2 separate regions of the Homo sapiens genome follow, and region 1 is linked to region 2. Evidence: fine-mapped expression QTL. Tissue or cell type: neutrophils. Region 2 holds a variant in brackets; the other region holds the start of a gene. All regions are shown on one strand. Distances are from middle to middle. Region 1 holds the start of WDR33 (WD repeat domain 33). Region 2 overlaps LIMS2 (LIM zinc finger domain containing 2).

The links. PIP is the estimated chance that this variant, and not a neighbour inherited with it, causes the effect.
Region 1: it holds the start of WDR33, and the variant in region 2 is fine-mapped to the expression of WDR33 in neutrophils (BLUEPRINT, PIP 0.95).

The regions. Positions count from the first base shown.
Region 1 is chr2:127,806,469-127,814,795 of GRCh38, forward strand. It overlaps WDR33 (WD repeat domain 33), which reads right to left and starts at 4,703. Exons shown (of 22, transcript NM_018383.5): 1 at 4,544-4,703. It overlaps LOC124907885 (a long non-coding RNA gene), which reads left to right and starts at 4,783. Exons shown (of 2, transcript XR_007087230.1): 1 at 4,783-5,675; 2 at 6,044-7,264. RefSeq lists enhancers at 2,778-3,685, 3,768-4,708, 4,115-4,194, 4,275-4,354, 4,375-4,664 and 1 more.
Region 2 is chr2:127,650,180-127,658,506 of GRCh38, forward strand. LIMS2 (LIM zinc finger domain containing 2) reads right to left here. Exons shown (of 10, transcript NM_001161403.3): 2 at 7,224-7,383; 3 at 4,651-4,717; 4 at 4,245-4,365. GPR17 (G protein-coupled receptor 17) reads left to right here. Exons shown (of 2, transcript NM_001161417.2): 2 at 537-2,460. The coding sequence starts at 557. The coding sequence ends at 1,576. Among named protein-coding and RNA genes, the nearest start is that of GPR17, 8.2 kb to the left of the region's middle. RefSeq lists enhancers at 235-962, 963-1,688, 2,108-2,167, 2,208-2,287. The variant C/T (reference allele first, on the strand shown) is at 3,039.

The DNA.
Region 1 (8,327 bases), 160 kb after region 2:
AGTGCTGGGATTACAGGCGTGAGCCACTGCGCCCGGCCTCTCTTTAGTTGTTTTCACTCCATTCCTGCCTTAGCTATGAATTTAAAGTAAAACCAGCCCAGAATCTTGCCAGAGACTGCTCTTTGGTCTTTGTTCTACCCTAAACTCTGTGTAACCTAGAATTAAACCAACTCTTCAACAACTGTGGAACAAAGCCAAAAAAAAATAGAACTACACCAACTCATTCGAAAAAAAAAAAAAGATGATGCTAAAGATTTCATGCTAATTGCCTTAGGTATGATAATGATTTTATATGTTTTCAGCTGGAGACTGGCTTGAAATAAAAATGTAGAAAAGCGTAGGAAAAAGCATTATTTCAAAGACATGCATCCTGAGGTATTACAGGGAAAAGCAGTATATCTGCAATTTAATTTCAAATCATTCAAGAAAGGGAGGATATAGAGTTAAAGCAAAATGGTTAAATGTTGGTTAACAGTCGAATCCAAACAGAAGGCATATGGGTGTTCACTGTAGTATTCTTTCACCTTTGCTGCATGTTTGAAATTTTTTTTTTTAAGACGGCATTTCACTCTTGTTGCCCAGGCTGAAGTACAATGCGCAATCTCAGCTCACTGCAACCTCCGCCTCCAAGGTTGAAGCAATTCTCTTGCCTCAGCTTCCCAAGTAGCTGGGATTACAGGAATGTGCCACCACGCCCAGCTAATTTTTTTTGTATTTAGTAGGGATGGGGTTTCACCATGTTGGCCAGGCTGGTCTTGAACTCCTGACCTCAGGTGATCCACCTGCCTCGGCCTCCCAAAGTGCTGGGATTACAGATGTGAGCCACTGCACCTGGCTTGAAATTTCTTAAAGTTGCAAAAAAGTTACCAGAATATTCCATATACCAAAAAAGGAAAATTGCTGCTCCACCTACTAAGTTGAGAGCAAACAGAGTAGAGAGCAGGTGCCTATAACAACAAACTGCCTAAAGCACAGTTTTGCACGTATCATCCCACTCAAGGATCTGCTCAAAATGGTAAGGCATAGAGGCAGGTACTAATGGGACACAAAGTAACAGAAGGCAGTCACACAGACACTAGACTAACTAAACAAGTTATGAATAAATGAGAGTCACTGAAGACCTCATTAATTGGATTTAGCTGGATTTTAAGGACTGAACAGAATAGGAATAGTGTGAAAGGAAGGAGAATACAATCTAGGCAAAGAGTTAATAAGCAACAGCCAAAGATCAGAAATAAACCAAGTCATGAGGGGAATTTTTGTAGAAAATTCATTCTTCAATTTGTATAATGCCTAGGTTTTAGGAATACAAAAATATAAGGTACTATAGCACGTCTTCAACGTGCTCACAAAGAGCTGGCAGCAGGGACTCATGACTCCCAAGACTTTGAAAGGCTGAAGTGGGAGGATCGCTTGAGCCTAGGAATTAGAGGCTACAGTGAGCCATGATCATGCCACTGTATTCCAGCCTGGGTGACAAAGTGAGACCCTGTCTCAGAAAACAAACAAACAAACTAAAAACCAAAGTATTCACAAGTAGTGGAGAAGGTATAGTCAAAATACATTAAAGATATATACAAAATGCTTTAATAGCAGAGAAAGGAGTGATTAACTTATCAGAGGAATGAGATTGTCAGTAAATTTCAACAAAGATATTTGAGTTAATGTTTAAAACTGAAAATGATGTCACCAATTAAATTCATCACAGAAAGAAAAAAAATGTTAACATTTAAAGAATGCCTACTATATATGAGGCACTTTTTACCTTTAGGTTTTATAGTTAACATTCTTATATACAAAGAAACTGAAGCTTAGAGAGTTTAATTAACTGACCCAATATAAAAAAGGTAGTTAATGGTGAGCCTGGCATTCAAACCTAGGTCCATTTGCTGCTGAAACCCATACATGCCCTTTCCAATACTACCTAGCTCTGGGAATTTATAAGCACACAAATCATGAGTACAAGATACAATACAACTTTAGAAAGTCAGTCACTACCAGAAAATTAGTAAAATGTTTAAGGGCCAGACAGATGAGAGTAGCACTGCTCAGATTTTCCAATACACTGAAGAGCTTCAGTCTCTAGGACTAATGTAAATGGTTTGAAATGGGGAGATAAATGTTACCAAAGAAAAATCATTTTCAGCAGAGCGCGGTGGCTCATGCCTGTAATCCCAGCACTTTGGGAGGCCCAGACAGGTGGATCATTTGAGGTCAGGAGTTTGAGACCAGCCTGGCCAACATGGTGAAACCCCGCCTCTACTAAAAAATACAAAAATTGGCCAGGTGCGGTGGCTCACGCCTGTAATCCCAGCACTTTGGGAGGCCGAGATGGGCGGATCACGAGGTCAGGAGATCGAGACCATCCTAGCTAACACGGTGAAATCCCGTCTCTACTAAAAATACAAAAAATTAGCCGGACGCGGTGGCGGGCGCCTATAGTCCCAGCTACTCGGGAGGCTCAGGCAGGAGAATGGCGTGAACCCGGGAGGCGGAGCTTGCAGCGAGCCAAAGATCGCGCCACTGCACTCCAGCCTGGGCGACAGAGCGAAACTCTTGTCTCAAAAAAAAAAAAAAAAAAAAAAGAATTCCAGAAACACATTTATAAGTGAAAATTTTTCACTAATATCTTTGTCGTAATCATAAAGCTTTTCTGTAACCTTACTATCCTATTCTGAAATATGAAGCAGTTCAAACTTCAGCCATAATCAAATAATATTCCACCGCAAAGTAATGGGAAAAGTATATGAACTTATTACTTAGCAAAGAGAGCTCTGAATAAATACCTTAAGTGCTTAGTAAAAATATAATTAAAGCCTTACGTCAATATAAAACCGTGATGGCAAAATCTGTTTAGTATTTTTCACCAACCAAAGAAAATTATCCAAGTTAAGCCATCAGCTTCACAGATAAACATTTATTTTTGTCTAAACCATTGTAATATATGTAAGCCAAATTCCTTTTTTTTTTTTTTTTTTTTTTTTTGAGACGGAGTCTCGCTCTGTTGCCCAGGCTAGAGTGCAATGGCGCGATCTTGGCTCACTGCAACCTCTGCCTCCGGGGTTCAAGTGATTCTCTTGCCTCAGCCTCCCGAGTAGCTGGGATTACAGGCGCCCACCACCACACCCAGCTAATTTTTGTATTTTTAGTAGAGACGGGGTTCCGCCATGTTGGTCAGGCTGGTCTCGAACTCCTGACCTCAGGTGATCCGCCCACCCTGGCGTCCCAAAGTGCTGGGATTACAGGCGTGAGCCACCGCGCCCGGCCATAAGCCAACTTTCTACCAAAATTCTTCCTAGGAGTACAGGAAAGACAAGTTAAAATTTCTCCCCAAGTTTCAAGAAGATAGTCTAAATATGGAACTTCAAGTCTCAGCAAAAACTCAAATCTATACAATATTTTATCTTCTCCCGGTCAAGGAGACAAAAAAAGCAAAAGTATCTTACAGTAATAAAAAATGGGTAAAATGCAATTAAGGCGAGGAAATGAAAAATGCCACAAGAGGTACAACTAGCATAACTGTCACTAAAAGGTTTGAATTAAGTAGGTTTACCACTGCACCATATTCACAGGCTATATATACATACACACACACATATATACACATATATATGTATATATAGCATGCATTAGCTCTCCAGAGTGTACTAAAAAAGTAAAGTCTACGCTCCCCAGAGTTGTTCCTTTCAGTGCAGGCTTTTTGTTCATATTCTAATGTCTTCCAAAGTTCCTGAACAGTCAACTTAAGATCATGTGTGTAGAAACTACTTTAAAACATTCTTGACAGGCTTTCTACAAGTAGCCCGTATTTTTCTGATTTGATTTAAATAGATCCAATTACGGAATTCCCTACCGACCTGCCGCCGCCGCCTCCTCCTTACTCCGGAAGGGGCCACTAATCCCAAGGGTTACAACCAAGTACAAACATTCATTGTCATTTCTTTTAAGAAGGCATGCTAAGATCCTCACTACTTAGTTGCCAGAAGACAACTTAAAATCAGAAACAGGGATCTAGCACAAACCAAATAGAAATACAACTATTCCAAAAAAGCAGGGCTTTGCCTGTCAAGCTGTAGCCTCATCCTTATAATAAGCACCGATTTCAAGCCACGATAACATCACGGCTAAGTCTTCAGCTGTTTTGCAGATTTCACGTTAACTTCCCTTGACCCTTTCAACCAACTACTTCAACTCGGCCCACTTCTTTCCACTCCCGCCCCAAACCTCAGTTAAAATGCATTTCCCTCCAAACTTCACGTCTTAACTGTGGCCTGACTTACGTCTTCTCGTCGCCACCGCTCCCAGTCAGGGCCTTAGTTCTAACCATGGCCGCTTTTCCCGGTTGGCCTCCAGCCTCCAGCCCCCTCCCATAAGTCTCGAACCTGCCTCGAACAGCCGCCCCGAGGTCGATTCTCCCAGTTCCTCCAACCTGTGCCCAGGCGCCCGTCCAGGCCCCCAAAGCACGCAACGGCCGAGCCCGAAAATGGCGGAGAGTGCCGCTGCCTGCTGCAGGCGAGCAGTCCCGTGTCGCCGCCGCACTCACCGTCTGGCTTTGAGCAGAGCTCCTAAATGGCCAGCGAAGCGTTCGCCTTCAGAGCCAGAAATGTCTCTCTTGTTTGGTCTCCCCACCCCGATCCTCTCAATCCCGCTCCTCCAAAGGAGCAGCCGCCATCTTCCCCTATGGGCCACCGAACGCACGCTCTGGGGTCATCACGCACTGGCGGGACGGCGCTACGTCACGCGCGCCTGGACCGCGGGCCTCTGTGAGGTTCGATCTGCGCATGTGCCTAGGTGAGGTGCCGAGCCGCGAGACCCTGCAGAGCGCTTCCTTTGTTCCGGAGCGAGTAGGACGCGCTACCTCCTGGAGGAAAGAAGCGACTGCGTTTCGCAGTGCTGACTTTTTTTTACAGTGTGAGCTAACGTGTATGCTCTGAAAAACACCCCGTTTTCCAGTATGTGAATGAGTATATTTGTACGGGGCCAGTACGGCAGACATAGCGGGTCGTTGGACCGAGCCCACCGAGAGTGGATCTGTGGGAAGCCACTGTGGCACCTTGCTGAGTCTGTTCACCCGTGCAGCTAGCTGGTGGCAGCCCTGGCAGATCCCGGCACACAGTCAGGCTCCACGCCTTACCCGAGCCAGTTGTGCCTCTAGATTACGCCTCGCTTAAAGTCCAGCGACCAAGATAGAAAAACAGCCCCACGATGCAACCATTTTGGAAAACCGCTGCAGTTTCTGCCAAAGCTAAATGTACGCTTACCTTGTGACCCCAGAAATTTCACTTCAAGAGGAATGAGTGCATACGTCCACCAAAGGCATGTGCAAGAATGTCCATAGCACGTTTATTCGTAGTAGTAAAAAACTGGTAACCTAAATGTCCATCAGCAGTTGAGTGGCTAAATTGTGGTGTATCATACAGTGGATTTCTACAGAGAAATAGGAAGTTACGGATAAACGCAACAGCCTGAACGAATAGCAGCTACTGTTAACTTAGGCACAAAGAAGAGGACGCTGTATGATTCCATTTTGATGAGGTTCAAAATATAACTGCACAGCAAGTTGTTCTCCAGTATGAATCAGGAATCGTACCAGCCTGGGGAACATGGCGAGATCCCATCTTTGCGCGTCGGGGTGCGTTCCTGTGACCGCCTTCCTGTGATCGTTCCTGTGATGGGTACTTGGGAGACTGGGGTGGGAGGATCACTTGAGCCCAGGAGTTGGAGGGCGCAGTGAGCCAAGATCGTGCCAGTGCACTTAAGTCTTGGAAGCAGAGTAAGACCCTGTCTCAAAGAAGTCTTACTTTTGACTCCATAATCCCCTTCCAAAAATCTATTCTAAGGATAGCCTCAGAGATGTGAGTAAGATTTGTGTACTAATCTTTGAGGTATTAATGATAGCAAAAAAAAAAGGAAACAGTAGCAGACAGTGATTAAATAATGGCACATCCATACGTAGACTATCATGCAGACATTACACAGTATCTAAAGTTTTTATGATAACATCAGAAATGTTTATAAACTTCTATATTTTTTCTTTTTTTAGAGACAAGGTCTCTCACCCAGGGTGATCATAACTCACTGCAGCCTCAACCTCCCGGGCTCAAGTGATCCTCTCACCTCAGCCTCCCTAGTAGCTCAGACTAATGACCTGTACCAGGACACCCATACCCAGCTAATTTTAGTAGAGACTGTCAGGCCTCAGAGCCCAAGCTAAGCCATCATATCCCCAGTGACTTGCACGTATACATCCAGATGGCCTGAAGCAACTGAAGATCCACAAAAGTGAAAATAGCCTTAACTGATGACATTCCACCATTGTAATTTGTTTCTGCCCCACCCTAACTGATCAATGTACTTTGTAATTTCCCCGACCCTTAAGAAGGTTCTTTATAATTCTCCCACCCTTGAGAATGTACTTTGTGAGATCCACCCCCTGCCCACAAAACATTGCTCCAAACTCCAATGCCTATCCCAAAACCTGTAAGAACTAATGATAATCCCACCACCCTTTGCTGACTCTCTTTTCGGACTCAGCCCACCTGCACCCAGGTGAAATAAACAGCCTTGTTGCTCACACAAAGCCTGTTTGGTGGTCTCTTCACACGGACACGTGAGACAGAGACAAGATCTGATTATGTTGCCCAGGGCGGTCTCAAACTCCTGGGTTCAAGCAATCCTCCTGCCTCAGCCTCCCAAAGTGCTGGGATTACAGGCCATGCGCCACCACGCCCAGCCCCTATAATCTTATTTTGATATGTGTCTAGAAATATGTAAGGAGGCCAGACAATTCCAGTTCTGTGTGATGAGCTTAGGTTAGGATGGAAGGAAGCCATGGACACCCTGAGTGCAAGGCAGGAAAGCCAGGATAGAAGGCAGGATTCTCAAGGGCTGAAGGTAGGGAATGGGGTCAGGAAGGTAACGCTAAGAAGTCCGCTCATCAATTGGGTTTAGAAGTTAGGCAGAAAAGACAAGCAAGTGGTCAGTTCCTAGAAATTATACTGGGAGTGGTAGAGGAGGCATTCAGGCAGTGTCCTGATCCCTGAAAATCTTTAAAATGTACTGAATTGGAGGAGCAGTCTAATCAAGGGCAAAAATCCTTCACACCTGTAACCTCACAGGCCCCTTCCTGGAAAATTGTTTTTTAAATTGACCAGGAGACAAATGAATCTGTTAAGTATACTGCAAGGATGCAGTCAGCCATATTCTATATTTTATAAAATTTTACATGTGATACATTTTCTTCCAATAAAAATTTAAAAACTGAGGAAAGAAACTGTTAGAGATTATCTGTTACAGGTTAGAGACTTAAGAGGCATATCAACCAAATGGAATGTGTACTCCCTATTTGGGTCCCAATTGAACAAACTGGGGGGAAAAGACATTTTAAAGAGTTTTTAAATTTGTTATATGTAACAACTATATTTTCATTATTTATTTATTTATTTTGAGACGGAGTCTTGCTCTGTCGCCCAGGCTGGAGTGCAGTGGCGCGATCTCAGCTCACTGCAACCTCCGCCTCCCAGGTTCAAGTAATTCTTCTGCCTCAGCCTCCTGAGTAGTTGGAATTACAGGCTTGCACCATCATACCCGGCTAATTTTTGTATTTTTAGTAGAGACGGGGTTTCACTATCTTGGCCAGGCTGGTCTTGAATTCCTTACCTTGTGATGCACCTGCCTCGGCCTCCCAAAGTGCTGGGATTACAGGCGTGAGCCACTGCGCCCGGCCTTTTCATTAATTTTTTAAAATCTTTACCTGTTGGCTGGGCACCGTGGCTCACACCTGTAATCCCAGTACTTTGGGAGGCTGAGGTGGGTGGATCACATGAGGTCAGGATTTCAAGACCAACCTGGTCAACGTGGTGAAATCCCATCTCTACTAAAAATACAAAAAAAAAAAAAAAAAATAGCTGGGCATGGTGGTGGGCACCTGTAATCCCAGCTACTCAGGAGGCTGAGGCAGCAGAATCGCTTGAACCCCGGAGGCGGAAGTTGCAGTGAGCCAAGATTGTGTCACTTCATTCCAGCCTGGGCAACAAAGCAAGACTCCATCTCAAAAATAAATAAGTAAAATCTTTACCTGTTGTGTCCTGAAGTATGTATGAGTTAAATGATATGATGTCTGGAATTGGCTTTAAGTGATTCCAGCCAAGCACATCAGCAGAAATGGTTGAGTAAGAACATCTGAAAATCTTCTCCTTCATAAAAGCCACAAAACACTGGCAAAATTTTGTCAAAATCAATTTTTTCAGTGTTCAGAGTGCTGGAAATTAACCAAGGTCTTTCAACAAGATAAGGATTGTTTATTCAAGAAAAAAAATGGCTAAATC
Region 2 (8,327 bases):
GAAAGCGGTGACACCCCGGCCACTGCACCTGTGGGCAGGTGGGTCAGGGAGGGTCCAGGCACTCAGGATGAACAGAACTCACCTGCCAAGGCTTGGGCTGAGGAGGAGCTGGAATCCCGGAGACACACTGCCCCCGCCCCTCACCACCCCTGTCACTCAGACAGCACACCTCAGAGGCAGAACAGAAAACCCAGAGCCTCACCCAGGCAAGGCTCACGTCCCATTCCCCGCCATGGCACTGACCCGGTCCTCCCAGCTCTGAGGAGCCTCAGATCTCCTGGGTGGCAGGGGTGCAGCTGCATAGCGGCGAAATTCCAAGCCCTGGTTCTGCGTTTGCCTTGTGCTGAAGTTCAGAATGCCTCTGACGCTCACGCACACCAAATGGACAAGGAGGTCCCCTCAGCAGCCCCGTGGGCGGTGCTGAGCTTGAAAGTGGGAGGTTCTGAAGGCATTGGAGGCCTGACTTCTGGACTTCAGAGAGCGTGAAGCTGCCTAGATCGCAAGCTCATTGTGAACTGTTTGCTTGTTCCCTCCAGGCTCTGACTCCAGCCAAAGCATGAATGGCCTTGAAGTGGCTCCCCCAGGTCTGATCACCAACTTCTCCCTGGCCACGGCAGAGCAATGTGGCCAGGAGACGCCACTGGAGAACATGCTGTTCGCCTCCTTCTACCTTCTGGATTTTATCCTGGCTTTAGTTGGCAATACCCTGGCTCTGTGGCTTTTCATCCGAGACCACAAGTCCGGGACCCCGGCCAACGTGTTCCTGATGCATCTGGCCGTGGCCGACTTGTCGTGCGTGCTGGTCCTGCCCACCCGCCTGGTCTACCACTTCTCTGGGAACCACTGGCCATTTGGGGAAATCGCATGCCGTCTCACCGGCTTCCTCTTCTACCTCAACATGTACGCCAGCATCTACTTCCTCACCTGCATCAGCGCCGACCGTTTCCTGGCCATTGTGCACCCGGTCAAGTCCCTCAAGCTCCGCAGGCCCCTCTACGCACACCTGGCCTGTGCCTTCCTGTGGGTGGTGGTGGCTGTGGCCATGGCCCCGCTGCTGGTGAGCCCACAGACCGTGCAGACCAACCACACGGTGGTCTGCCTGCAGCTGTACCGGGAGAAGGCCTCCCACCATGCCCTGGTGTCCCTGGCAGTGGCCTTCACCTTCCCGTTCATCACCACGGTCACCTGCTACCTGCTGATCATCCGCAGCCTGCGGCAGGGCCTGCGTGTGGAGAAGCGCCTCAAGACCAAGGCAGTGCGCATGATCGCCATAGTGCTGGCCATCTTCCTGGTCTGCTTCGTGCCCTACCACGTCAACCGCTCCGTCTACGTGCTGCACTACCGCAGCCATGGGGCCTCCTGCGCCACCCAGCGCATCCTGGCCCTGGCAAACCGCATCACCTCCTGCCTCACCAGCCTCAACGGGGCACTCGACCCCATCATGTATTTCTTCGTGGCTGAGAAGTTCCGCCACGCCCTGTGCAACTTGCTCTGTGGCAAAAGGCTCAAGGGCCCGCCCCCCAGCTTCGAAGGGAAAACCAACGAGAGCTCGCTGAGTGCCAAGTCAGAGCTGTGAGCGGGGGGCGCCGTCCAGGCCGAGCGCAGACTGTTTAGGACTCAGCAGACCCAGCAAGAGGCATCTGCCCTTTCCCCAGCCACCTCCCCAGCAAGCAACCTGAAATCTCAGCAGATGCCCACCATTTCTCTAGATCGCCTAGTCTCAACCCATAAAAAGGAAGAACTGACAAAGGGGATCCATCGGCCACCCCTCTGCAGGGGCTTGTGATGGCTACAATGGCTCCTAGACACTCAACGACTTCATCTGTGGCAGGGAGAGAGGAGGCCGGAAGAACAACCCCTGAACAATGGAGGCCTTTCTTTCCCGCTAGGCTCCCAGCCTCCTTCCCGCTACAGAATCGCTCATCGGCGAGGCTCAGCAGAAAGACCCTGAAGGCAGGCTGCAAATGACCCAGAAGAGGGACCTGGGAGTCCTGGTGGGGACGGGGAGGGAGTCTCAATACTCCTTTGCAGTGCAAGGTACTCTGAGTCCCCTCTGTAGTGCCTCTGCCAGACACACACTGCCTGAGTTGAAGAGACACAGGCCACACATTTCAGGCTGGTTGCCAGCGGACGTCAGCACTCACGGCCTGCAGGGACTCAGCACAGCTCTGGATTCTGGATCTCTCCTGCTGTAACCCCACGCACAAGCCTGCAACCCCCAGAGCTCTTTGACAGGCTCCCAGGCCTCCCAGTCCTGGACAAGCATGTGCAGTCACGGGAGCTCAGCTCAGGCCAGGGCTGGGCTGTGCACCTGCCTCCCACTGACCCAGACCCACTTCCTCCAGAGAGGCCTCTCTCCGCCTGAGCTATTTCCCTTGCTAGTGTGCAGATATTTCCCTAACATGTCCTTTTTTGTATTTGTTTGTACGGACCATAAATATAACTGTAGCTTTAAGACTACACAGGTTGTTATGTTTGGTCAACATGAAGCGTTTCCCAGAACTTCTCTGACCCAAGAATGGTGAAGTGGTGGTACAGTGGCAGAGGCAGCCTCGTGGGCTCTCTTGCTGGGGCTCTGGCAGCTCACAGCACATCTGCCCAGATTCTGAGGTTCTGCACTGTGGGGCTGGGAGGGCCAAGTAGGGGCCCTCATTCCTCACTCTAGCTGCCACCCTGCACCGTCCTTACGGCAACATGCTTTTGTAGCATGTTTGACTTTCCAAAACGTTTCCAGCATCTTTCAGATTTCCCCAACCAGCCCTTGGGGCAGTGGCCCTGTGCAAACCTTGGCTCAGGAAGGAGATTGGGCTCGCTCCACACACCCTGTCGGCGACGTTGCTGGTCAGCACGAGCTCCTGGTGCTGTCCCTCGGCCCCTGCACTGCACCGTCTGCCCCTCAGCCCTTCATTTAGACAAGCTGCTCAATGCCAGGCACCGCCCAGCTCCGAGGACAGTGGGCCGGACGCCAGGCCCCAGGCCACGTGCCTCTCTCACGGGCAGCACACGGACAAGAGCTCGGTAGTGTCGGGGAAGCATCT[C/T]GGAGGAGCTGCGGGAGGGAGCAGAGTGCCCGGACAGAGAGAGTGTGGCAGGGGAAGCATGGCTGGGGCCTCTGGGGGTCGGCGCTGCCTCTCACTGATACAGGGGACGCATGCAGAGGCAGCCTTGGTGGTCAGTGGAGGAGAATCCCAAACTGCTTGTGCCTCATTGCGTTTGGGATGCCTGGTGGACACCAAGTGGAGGTGACATGTGGGCAGCTGAGGACAGCGAGAGAGAGGCCTGAAGTGGAGCCTGGAATTCTCCAGACACATGTGCCATTTAGGGCTCTAGGATTCTGTCTGCAAGGGCAGCCATGAGGGCCGGGCACGGAGCCCCAGACGACTCCCCATGGAGAGACAGGGAGAAAGGTGACTCAGAGGAGGGGAGTGAGCAGGTGCAGCTGTGGGGGCGGGCAGAACCACAGGAACTCAGGGTCCCGGGTGCCAGAAGGGGGGCGTTTCTGCACCTCAGCAGCTGTGGTGAGGGCTGCTGAGGGGTCAAGAGGAGGTGTGGGTCCCTGGGCAGATGAGGCCAGGGTAGCACACGCGAGGGGCAGCGGGTGTGCTGGGAGAAGCCGGGGAGGAAGGCCCAGCAGTGTTTTTAACCCAGCTCCCCAGCCCAGTCCTTCAGAAAGGACGAGAGAGTGGCGTGGAGAAGCAAGCCCTGGAGAAAGTGTGGGGATGAACAGGGCTCACAGACAGAGGCCGGGCTGCACGGGATCTCAGAGCTAGGGCCAGGGGAGGTGGGAGACAAGGCCACCTGCTATAGGGACAGTGCTTGGGAAGGGAGGATGAGAGACCAAGGGTTCGCAGAAGGTGGGAACTTCTGGAGTACCCATGAGGTTTGTGGCCCTCAATTTAGAGTAAATGTGGGCATCTCCCTCCAGCCACACTGAGCTGCACAGGTACAGGCAGGAGAAGGTGGACAGGTGGGGTCAGTAGATGGGGTGGCCAGGGGGGTGGCAGAGTGTGAGGATTTCTCATGGCTCCCGAGAGGCTGCCAGGAGCTCGCTGAGCGTGGGGCCCTGTAAACTGGGAGCTGGACTATCCGCCCCGGGGTGACCTGGAGGGAGGGCAGCTACATCAGTGCAGGCTGCAGCACCGGGACCCTTCTGCGCCCTCAGCAAGTGGGTAGCACACAGGAGAGGTGGCAGGTGTGCCAGGAAGGGCTGTGGCCCAGTCCTCTCTGGCCCAACACGGCCACCTCACCTGCCGGCATTCTTCACAAAGCCCAGGTCAGCCAGCTCCACATCACACAGCTCGCAGCGGAAGCAGCCCGGGTGCCAGTTGTTGTTCATGGCCTTGATGACGCGGCCAATGATGAACTCACCTGGAAGAAGACAGGTCCCTGCTGGCTGGGGAGCACGTGCCTGTCCCCTCTTCGGACCCTCCCAAGCCCTGTCCACCTAGCACTCCGCCTGCTCTCTGCCTGGCCCATGGGCTCCCTCGTGGGATGGTGATGCCTGTAGGGGGCCTGACGGCTGCCGCTCAGAGAGGCAAGGTGGGGAGTTAGGAAAGAGCTGGGCCAGTTCTGTGTACCCCCTCGGCCCCCTGCCCCCCGCCACTGCTGCCCACTTCCCAGGCAGCCCAGGATGTGTACTGTCACCGGCCTTACCGCAGGATCCACAGCACGGAGCAAACAGCATTTGGAAGTCGTGTTCGCAGTACTTCCGGCCTTCAAACTGCAAAGGGGTCGCAGAGAGAGGACAAGCAAACCACCTATCATCCCCATGAGCAGCCCAGGCCCTTGTTGGGTCAGGACCTGACAGCAGGGGATGAGGCACTGAGGCAGGGGCATGCCGGGCTGAGGCTGGAGCAGTGGGTCCCAGGCCTGGCCAGAGAGGACACTGGCCCTTTTGGGATGGTGGGGTGCAAAGGGAGGTGCCCCCGTGGAAGCTGGAGAGGTCCGTGAGGCCACCTGTCAAAGGGCCACTGGTGTCTACTGAGGATCTGGACCCTGTTGGTCCGGAGAACAGGCTGGGGGCGAGGCGGTTTTAAGCCAGGAGGGATGAGATCCAGTCTGAAGTGTAGTGTCACTTGGTCCTATTTCGTATACCTTCTCTGTGGGAGTATCCAGCTCTCTCAGAGGCCATGAAGACCCGGGTATAGGAGACAGAAGGAAGGGAACGCAGGAAGGGCCTGGGCACGGGGAAGTGGGAAGAGCTCAGGGCTGCGGCCAGCAGGAGCCAGTGTGCACACCCTCCAGGCGGCAGCTGCCAGCGAGGGCCCCTGTGCTGGCCACAAGCGGGGCCAAAGCCTGCCTCTGCTTTCCTCTAACAATTGTATTTTCTGTTTTTTAATTGGTTTTTCCCTGTTCTCTAAAATGAGTGTCTTATTAGACTAAACTGGATATAGCCCTACCCAGTGACCTGTAGAGTCAGGAAGGGCTTAAACTCTTTCAGCAATGAAAATCTTCTGGGCACCTGCTGTGTGTGAGAGAGAGAGGCTTTGTTCTGGGCATATGGCCACCCCTCCTAGAGCTTTGCCCACCCCTCCCGCTGCCTCTACACTTAGACAGCATTCCTCAGGAGGCTGAAGACACTGTGAGGAACAGCGGCTCTTGCTCTGCCAGGCGGACCACAGGCCCCACATCCATCCACCAGCCAGTCCCATCAGCTCTACCTTGAAACAGAGCCAGCATCTGACCCCTGGCCACCACCGCCACCACAAGCACAAGTGATGTTCTGGTAAATGCTCAACAGCCAGCTCTCTGGGGCGCAGAGGCAGGCCCTGCTGTGGGGCGTTTGCCAGTGTCCATGGTGTGAATATTCCCGTCATGGCCAACTCCTGGCTGCCAACATGACATCGATGTGGACTTGAGGGGAGATGTGCAGTGGCCACACCAGCACAATGGACAGAAATAACCCCATCAGCATAGACGATAGTAAAGTGGAACAAAATAATTAGCAAGTGGTATGCTTTGAGTATTTGTTACCTTTGTTTTTAATAAAATTGTATCCCATTGTACGCTGATATAATTTAATTTTTAAACAATAACTCTGTTGCCCAACCAGCTCCCAAGATTGTTGATGATTTAACGACTGCTCCTGTGAGCTGGTGGGGGCCCCTTCACTTTCATCTGGGTGATTGCACTAATTCAGCTCCTGGTCCCCCCAGCCTCCTGGCCCAGCCTCTGTTCCTGCCCCGCCTTACATCCTCTCCTCAGCACAGCGGCCACAAGCCTCCTTTTTTTTTTCTTTCTTTTTTTTTTTTTTTTTAGATGGAGTCTTGCTCTGTCCCACAGGCTGGAGTGCAATGGCGCGATCTCGGCTCACTGCAACCTCTGCCTCCCAGGTTCAAGTGATTCTCCTGCCTCAGCCTCCCGAGTAGCTGGGATTACAGGCACCTGCCACCATGCCAGGCTCATTTTTTGTATTTTTAGTACAGACAGGGTTTCACCATGTTGGCCAGGCTGGTCTTGAACTCCTGACCTCAGGTGATCCATCTGCCTCCGCCTCCCAAAGTGCTGGGATTACAGGCGTGAGCCGCCGCGCCCGGCCAGGTCACCTTTTCAAATGTCAGCAGATAGTGTGACTCCTCTGCTCCACACCCCGAGGTGGCTCCTGCCTCTTGCAGAGGGGAAGCCTATGGCTCCGTAGAGGCCCGTGGGGCCAAGCGAGATCCACCTCCCTTTCCTCAGCTCCTGGCCTTCTCCCTCTCATGCCCTCGGCTTCCATCACACCAGTCTTCCTACTGCTCTCCATACACCCCATGTTCTCCCACCACAGGGTATGTGCATATGCGGTGCCCTCTGCCCAGTATGTCTCCCTCCCCTCAGGTGTGCCCAAACCTCACCTTCCCTGAGCACCACCGCACCCCACCCCGGGAACCCTGACCCCCAGGGCATCAGCACCAGCTGGTGGGCCATGCGGTTGCTGTGCTCACTGTCTAGTCCCCAGGGAGGGCAAGCACCACCAGGGCAGGCTCTTCCTGCCCCCAGGGCCTGCCCAGCATCTGCCCAGAGGAGGCTGGTGAAAGGTGGCTCTCTGTTAGCACCCAGGGCACCTGGGGTGCTGTTCACATCTCACAGGTGAAGGATGGGCCCGTGCAGGAGCTCAAGCCTGGTTCTGGGCTGGCTCCAGACCTGGCCCTGTCACCAGTCGGGACCACTGCATGGAGCCCGGCCCACCCGCTCATAGAGGGCAGACTCCGAGCTGGGTCTGAGAAAGCCCTCAGTAGTGTCCTCACCTCATAGAAGAGCCCCTCGGGGAAGGGCCGGAAGCACTGGGCACACACGAAGCAGTGCTCATGGTACAGCTCCCCATTGCTGTTGACAATGCGCTCGGCGGGGGAGAAGCGGGCCTGGCAGCGCTGGCACACGGCGTTGGCCAAGGCGTCCGACATATTGCTGGGGGCAGGAGACAGGAGGAGTGAGTCAGAGCTGGTCAGGGGTGCAGATGGGGCACACGCGGGGGCCTGCGCCCGACAGACACACCTCGTATTAAAAAGTGAAGACGCTCTGCAGGATCAGGAAAATCGCTCTAACCCAGGGTCCAGGCTGCTCAGTGCTTGTAGTGCCCACCCCTTGGGGTGTCAGGGGCCCAGTCAACTCCCACTTGGGCCCCTATTACCCCTTCTTCAGGGACCAGAGAGTCTCGCACACAGAACACCACCCAGCACAGGTGAGCGGCTCTGTATTCACACTCTCATTTAATCCCCAGGGCAATACTGCAGCTACTATTATTATGGCCTCTTCCAGAAAAGGGACCTAAGCCTCAAAGAGGTTGAGTAACTTGCCCAAGCTCACACAGCAGAGCGGGGTCCACACTTGAATCCAGACTGCTCAGTCTTCCATGGTTCCATCCTCTGCACCATGAGTTAGTTTCAAACTGACTGCCTCCAATAAACACATAACCACCCAAACACAGAGCAGGCAAGAGGGTAGCTGGGTGCGTGTGCAGAATGGCTCAAGCCTGTCATCCAGAGCACTGTGGGAGGCCAAGGTGGGCGGATCCCTTGAGCCCAGGAGTTCGAGACCAGCCTGGGCAATATGGCAAGAATCCATCTCTAATAAAAATACAAGAAAACAAAAAAATTAGCCAGGTGTGGTGGTGCAAGCCTGTAGTCTCAGCTACTCTGGAGGCTGAAGTGGGAGGATGGCTTGAGCCTGGGAGGCCGAGGCTGAGTGCCACTGCACTCAGGCCTGGGCAACAGAGCAAGACCCTGTCTCAAAATAAAAAATAAATAAAAAAGACAAGAGTATGAATCTTTGAGACGAGACGGGAGTGTGGTGAGGGGGAGCAAATCTCATCCATACTGGGCACTGCCTGTCCCCAGAGTCAGTGGTGGGTT